Linked DNA regions of Homo sapiens. The protein of the gene in region 1 purifies or fractionates together with the protein of each later gene. This does not show direct contact. Each region holds a gene or a part of one and is shown in the gene's direction. Other genes may lie near its edges.

Region 1 (3,654 bases):
TATTTTGTACTAAGAAAAATTATATAACTTAGGGAAGATCCAGTTTCTGATTTTAATTAATTATACATATAAATGGTACTACTTTAATAATTGTTTTTTCTCCTTTCAGGGCAATTCCACATCCTCGTGGTCATGCACATTTGGCAGCACTTGTCAACCATGAATGTAAGCAGATTCTGACTTTTTTTCAGTAAAGATGTACTTGAAAAAATATTATTTTTAAAAGTGCAGATATAGTGTAGTTGAAAGTGAGCTGTTTTGAAAACATATTCATCCAAAGGAAAAAATAAATTTTTAAATTGATTTACTTTAATCTGCATTTGTATTTGGTCATGGCTCTGAGTTGCTGAGGTTAGGGAGGAAAGCCTAGTGTACTTTCTATAACTTTGTACACATTTCTGCTAATTTTTAGGGATAAAGAAAATAATATATTTGCAGTTTATTTCAATTTGCAAATTGAAATATGGATGTATAGACATGTATAAAGTATTCAGGTTAGTTTGGTATCATGATTGTCTTAAGACTTAAGTTCTTAAAGTCTGCTTTAGAGGACAAAACAAGTAATGGATTCCACAGAAAATTAGTTTGGTCACATTTAGCAATAGTGTATTAAAAATATATCTGATCAGTTTTATTATATGGCCACATGGCCATCATTCCAATTCTAACAATACCGTCCTGTTAACTATATGATGATTTGGAAAAGGAAAGATGTATATTTTTGGCTTTCATTATATATTAATATTTTCTAGACGTTAAATTGTATATAATTATTAAATTTGAGATATAGCATTTTGTCAGAATTTATTTTATACATTTAATTCGCATATATTTACATTTATTTTTCTCAAAGTATTGTGGCTTAAAATACTGTATTATTATCCTTGAAGATTTTAAACATTTTCATTTGAGAATAGATAAGGATGTAAACCAGTCTGTACCAAGTAATTTTGAATAATATAATTTCTCTGCTAAGTTGTTTTTATTTTTTGCCTTTTAGCTTACAATTTTTCTCATAGAATAGATCATTTGTCTTTTGGAGAGCTTGTTCCAGCAATTATTAATCCTTTAGATGGAACTGAAAAAATTGCTATAGATCGTAAGTATTTAATAATTATTGTTGGATTTTACATGTAGAAAATTTTGCTTATAACCTGAATATTAATACATTTTTAATGTCTTCCTAACTACTGTGTAAAGATAATCTTTAAGTGGTTGGTGATTGAGATGTATGTGAAGAGAATTTGTCCTAGTAGTGGATGAAATTTGAATATTCAAAAATGAGCCATAGAACAGAATAAAGAAATTCAAGTTAAAAGATGAAGGAATTAAAAGGCAGAAGGAGTTCAATTTAAACAGTAGAAATAGATGAAAGGTTAATACATTAACAGGGCATAACTGCACTTTTTTGTATTCACCAAAGAATAAGAATGAAAAAAAGGTTCAACATTATGAGAAGAATTTTCTTCTTTGTATAATATAGGTTCAAAGTTTTAAAATGCATATATATCATTTCAGAAACCTCTCTGGAGAATTTTACAAACACCAGAAACCTAGTTATTCTGGAATGGTTTGGTTATTAACATAGAAGGAGTACATTATAGCACAGATAACCTTTTTAAAATGTTCTATTTAACCTTCTGCTCCATTTAAAGTATCAAGTCTATCCAAATATGGAAAGATCATTTTCTTAGTTTTTTAGAAAGTAGTCTGTTCTCATGTTTTCTGCAGGTTTTTGATTGCCTCTTTCTAAAATAGTCATATTATATACCATGTTCCAGCTATTGGACATTTTAAGGACTTCTGAAGCTTGTTCAGCTAGTAGGAATTCTATCCTTTGTAAAATTGTAATTAAGGATTTAGTTTTTTATTAATTTAAGTAGATTTATTAATATCCTATTCAGATTTATTCATATTCTTTACTTTTTAGCAGTGTTATAATCATATATTAAAGATGTTTAGAATTTAGAATACTGATTTACATTCATGAATATTTTATGTTCATGTGGGAATGTTTCACTTCAGGAAACCTGAGTGTACTAAATTTAGAAATGTGTGGATGGAAACATTTTGAGATTTATAAGCTTTAGTCAGTATAATCTAATCTGTAATCTAAGCATATGTTAATTCTCCTCTGAAATGCATTGCATGTTACCTGAGAGATGCTCATTTGGAAACATACTGGTCGATGCTTTGTTTCAAGATGCTAAAATGAACTACAAATTTTTGCACAGAAGCTCTTCTAAATATAAACAGGTCAATTTTCAAAAAGCTGTTTTTAAGTGTACTTCTTTATAAATTCAGAGAAACTAAGAGGTATTTAGAGTCATATTCTGAAATGCCGTTAGGTGAGTATCATCAGGTTTTTCAAAGCTTTAAAGCAGTTTGTATACTTTTCTCCTTCGTAATATATGTTTTTTTCAGCCTCTTTTTCCAAAAAGAAAAAAATCAACATTACATATCTGCTATGTCAGGTAGCTATCCCTTTCCTGATGTTCTCCAGAAGTATTGCAGGAGTTACTTAACAATTAACATCTTTAATGCAGTACAGATTTGGATAAACAAGGTAGACATAGTCCCTGCCCTTCATAGAGCGCACGTTCCTATAGGGAATTAGATCTTTAGGTAATAAGTGTTAGGGCAAACGGCTCTGAACAAAATAAAGGAGATTGCCTATGATATGAGAAAGGGCATGGAAGAGGCTGTGGTATTTGAAAAAAACTTGAGTGAAGTAAATAAGTGAGCTAAGCGATTATCTTTTTGAGAGCATTGCAGGCAGCTTTATTATTAATGAAGCCGGTAGAAATAAAACAACCTATATGTGCTGCCACAAACTGGACAACCTAACTCCATACTCCTCCTACCCTGCTGACTTCTCAAATGGCAGGGATGGCTCACTTTCCTAATGGTAGAAGGTGGTTATGTATGTCTTGAAGACAGAGCTGTTTAAGAGAGAGAATGCCTATACTATCTAATTGAGTGGCTTAGCCACACATGATTACTTTTTGCAGATGAATCATTCCTTCCATGAGTGAGAGAGAAGTGGAGAGGAAGGTCAAAGCTTTTACTCTTTTATGTACAAAGGGGTGCAAGCTTCTATTTAAATCTGGGAGAATTTTTTCTGCTTAAATTTAAGACCATATTCCCCTTGAGTGGAACCGCCTGGGTTCAAGTTCTCACTCTGCCACTTAATAACTTGGACTTTGGCCTGTTTCTTAACATCCCTGTACTTGAGTTGCTTCATCTCTAACAAAAGGATAATAAAAACATTTACTTGCTTCTCTAGTTGAATCTATGGATAGGTGTATCTAATTATACTTTTTCTAGAGAATTCTCTAGACCCGGAGAATTAACATGTTTTATATTATGTGAATGGGTAATTGTTTACAGTTAATTAGTAATTGGTAATATTCTGGTATTTAAAACTTGTGTCAAACTTAGAGATGCCTAATGACTGTATAAAAATGATCCTTTTGATTATACAGTAACCCCAGGCCATCATTGAGTAGTTTCTTTAGTTTTCTTCCTACTGTAATATCAGTTCCTTGTATTTATTCAAAGGCTAGCTAATTTGATTTTGGTTTAGTGTATATCTTAAGATATTAGTAGAAACTGAAAATATGTCTTGTGGTGGTTATTCTCTTATAATTTTAT
Region 2 (3,654 bases), on another chromosome or scaffold:
CACGCCTCTACGACAGTGTGAAGCCTGAGGAGTAACCTTTGTTTTATCCCCTTCTGCTTCCTAGGAATTTCCGCGTTGGTCCCTGGCTTTCCTTGTCACTTTCCGTTCAACTATAAAAACAAGAATTATTTTAACTGCACTAACGAAGGATCAAAGGAGAACCTTGTGTGGTGTGCAACTTCTTACAACTACGACCAAGACCACACCTGGGTGTATTGCTGATGCTGAGGTGAGAGCAGGGACCAACAGTGGTCATTTCACGGATGCAGAGGTGAGACAGGTGCACAACTGGTGTGTCACTGATGCGAAGGCGAGATCTGCTTTTTCAAGCGTGTCTGATTAGCGTCGCTGATGTGAAGGCGAGATCTGTTGCTTTTCCAGCATGTCTGATTAGCTGAGGTTCCCAGCAATGCGGGCTCCTGTTGTCAAAGATAAGGTGGAGTTGGGGAAGACTGGAACAACTCCCCAGATTAGAAGGATGAAAGAAATTGGGATTTCCCCCAGAAGCAGGAGAGCAGAGGGGGATTGGCAAACTTTTTCAGACCCAGGAAGGTATCATTCCAAGTTTCAAGTCTGGGAGGCTTTGGCTGTTGATGATTAGAAAAGTGGAATTTCTCAAAGTGGAGCATGGTATGAAAAAACAACCCAGAAAAGGGGATAACTGACCAGCTGTGGTGACTCACACCTGTAATCCTAGTGCTTTGGGAGGCCAAGGCAGGAGGATCAGTTGAGGCCAGGAGTTTGAGACCACCCTGGGCAATGTAGCAAGACCCTGTCTCTACAAAAAAAAAAAAAATTAGTTGGGTGTGATAGCACACATCTGTAGTCCCAGCTACTCAGGAGGCTGAGGTCAGAGGATCCCTTGAACTCAGGAGTTGCAGTGAGCTATGATTACACCACTGTACCCCAGCCTGGGGAACAGAGTGAGACCTTGTCTAAGAAAGAAAAAGAGAAAGATGGACGAAAGGAAGGAAAGAAGGAAGAAAGATGAAGGAAGGAAGGAAAGAGAGAGGGAGGAAAAGAGAGAGGAAGGGAAGAAAGGAGGGAGGGAGGGAAGGAAGGAGGAAGGGAGGGAAGAAAGAACGGAGGGGAAAGGAAGGAAGGAGGGAAGGAAGGAGGGAGGGAAGGAAGAAAGAGGAAAGAAAGGAGGTAGAGAGAGGGAGGAAAGAAGAAAGGAGGGAGGAAAGGAAGGAAGGAGAGAAGAAAGGAAGGAGAGAGGGAAAGAAGGAAGGGAGGGAGGAAGGAAAGAAGGAAGGGAGGAAGGAAGAGAGGAAAGGAGGGAGGAGGGAGGGAGGAAGTGAGGGAGGAGGGAGGGAGGGAAGGAGGAAGGGAGAAAGTAGGAAAGGGAGGAGGGAAGGAATGGAGGAAGGGAGGAGGGAAGGGAGGGAGGGAAGGAAAAGAGGAAGGAAATAAGGAAGGAAGGGAGGAAGGAAAGAAGGAAGAAAAGGGAAGGGAAAGGAAGGGAAGGAAGGGAGGGAGGAAGGAAGGAAGGGAGGGAGGGAGGGAAGAAAGGGAAGGAGGGAAGGAAGCAAGGAAAGGAAGGATAACCCAGAAGCCAAGACACCATGGTGTGCATCCATTGCCCCCATCACTGAGTAGCTGACCAAGGGAAAAATGGGGTTTATTTCTCTTCCTTCACCATTTGGGCCTCCTGCCCCACCTCAGCCCGCTGGTCATCAAGTACCTCCACAGAACCAACTTTATCCCTCTTTTCTTTTTTTCTTTTTTCTTTCTTCTTTCTTTATTTTTTTCTTTTTCTTTATTTTATTTATTTATTTTTTTTGAGACGGGGTCTCACTCTGTCGCCCAGGCTGGAGTGCAGTGGTGCAATCTCAGCTCACTGCAGCCTCTGCCTCCTGGGTTCAAGAAATTCTCCCACCTCAGCCTCCTGAGTAGCTGGGATTACAGGGGTGTGCCACCATGCCCAGCAATTTTTTTTTTTTTTTTTTTGTATTTTTAGTAGAGACGGGGTTTCACCATGTTGGCCAGGCTGGTCTCAAACTCCTGACCTCAGGTGATCCATCCAACTCGGCCTCCCAAAGTGCTGGGATTACAGGCGTGAGTCACTGTACCTGGCCTATCCCTCCTTTTCTTCTAGTCTTTTCCTCTCTCTACATTCTTCACAAAGGACCAGCTGATTGAAGCAGGTGGTGCAGAGGGTATTTCTAAAGGTGGTTATTTAAGCTTGAAAGATGTTCTCCAGCCTGTAGAAATGGTCTCTAAATCTCCCGCATGGATCAACTGACCTCACTGCTCTGTGACTTCTGGAATCTAAATAAAAAAAGAGAAGCCCTTTCATCAGATGTGTAGACAAAACCCCATCCCTCCTCCCTTTGGGGTGGAAAACCCTGGTGGTTCTAGCAATGTCTGTCCTTACAATGCATGTGGCTTATGGATGACACTAAATTAGCGGGCCCTTCCTGAATTTTGCCTTGGTAATGAAAATCATCTTCCTGGAATAGAGGAGAGGGAAAGGAGGGGGTTTGGAACTCTGGGCACCATCTTAACAGGGTAGATATTAAAAAACACCCACAGTGGCGTTCAGTCTGTGGCTAGGACTAGGAACAGCGTCCAGCCTCTGACTTCTGTCCATCACAGCAGAACTGGCACTTTGCAGGTCCCCTTCCCCTTAGCATAGAGGTGAGATTGAGGAGCTCATTGTTCATTGATCTCCTTGCTCCTATGAGCTAGGCAGGGATGTGGGGGTGGGGGCGTCTGATTCCTCTCAGCTCAGCTGCTTCCGACTAAGTCTGGAAAACCAATACAAAGTCATTTTTAATTCACCTTCCTCTTTGAGTCAATGCCTACTTATTCATTAAACTCAGATCTTTGCTTCTATTTTCAAGGAAAGGAGAAATATCTTCAGAGGAAGACTGCCGCCATACTGAGGCTGAGCACAGATTTGTCTTTTTCATTGCATCTGTCAAGCTTAAATAACCACCTTTAGAAATACCCTCTGCACCACCTGCTTCAATCAGCTGGTCCTTTGTGAAGAACGTAGAGAGAATGCGGCATAACCACCAATAAAGGAGTCTTGATTTAACCCTGGGATCTGCCTTTTCTGCTTCCTAAGATGAGACCGATGGTGAATGTGTGGGGAAGGAAAGATTGGTAGCCAGGCTGTCGAGTCTCATAGTGTGGAGAGGTCAGACTCTCAGGCCAGGGACCTCTAGGAGTCATTACAGCCTGCTCTGTCTTCTGAGGGAAATCACAGATTTGGGTGGGGTGTTTGTAGATACATATTAAATTATTAATGAATAAATTAGGAAGTAAACAGAGGGTAGAAAATTCACCACAAGACTGCCTCAACCATTCCCTCCCTGTGCCCATGGCAGATATCAAGAACTGATTACAGAATCTGATTCCCTCTCAGCCCAGATGGAAATTCACATTGTTGTTCTTGTTCTTTCTTCTTCTTCCTTTCACTCTTCTTCTCCCTCTCCTCCTCCTCCATCTTCTCCTCCTTCTCCTCCATGTCTCCTCTTACTCCTCTCCTACTCCCTCTTGTCCTCCTTCTTCTACTCCTCCCTCTTCTCCTCCTCCCTCTCCACCTCCTTCTCCTCCTCCCTCTCCTTCTCCTCCTCCTTCTCCTCCTCCCTCTCCTTCTCCTTTTCCCTCTTCACCTCCTCCTTCTCCTCCTCCCTCTCCTTCTCC

The links. The genes of interacting proteins can lie anywhere in the genome.
Region 2: the proteins of ERGIC2 (region 1) and ELSPBP1 purify together in Homo sapiens (co-immunoprecipitation; one large-scale study listed by IntAct). This does not show direct contact.

The regions. Positions count from the first base shown.
Region 1 is NC_000012.12:29,346,524-29,350,177, reverse strand, and holds part of ERGIC2 (endoplasmic reticulum-Golgi intermediate compartment protein 2), read left to right. Parts: intron 1-109; coding exon 110-165; intron 166-1,000; coding exon 1,001-1,099; intron 1,100-3,654. UniProt on the Homo sapiens protein: Possible role in transport between endoplasmic reticulum and Golgi.
Region 2 is NC_000019.10:48,022,106-48,025,759, forward strand, and holds the end of ELSPBP1 (epididymal sperm-binding protein 1 precursor), read left to right. Parts: intron 1-64; coding exon 65-222; 3' UTR 223-229; exon of another isoform or gene 230-271; intron 272-2,846; 3' UTR 2,847-3,049; downstream 3,050-3,654.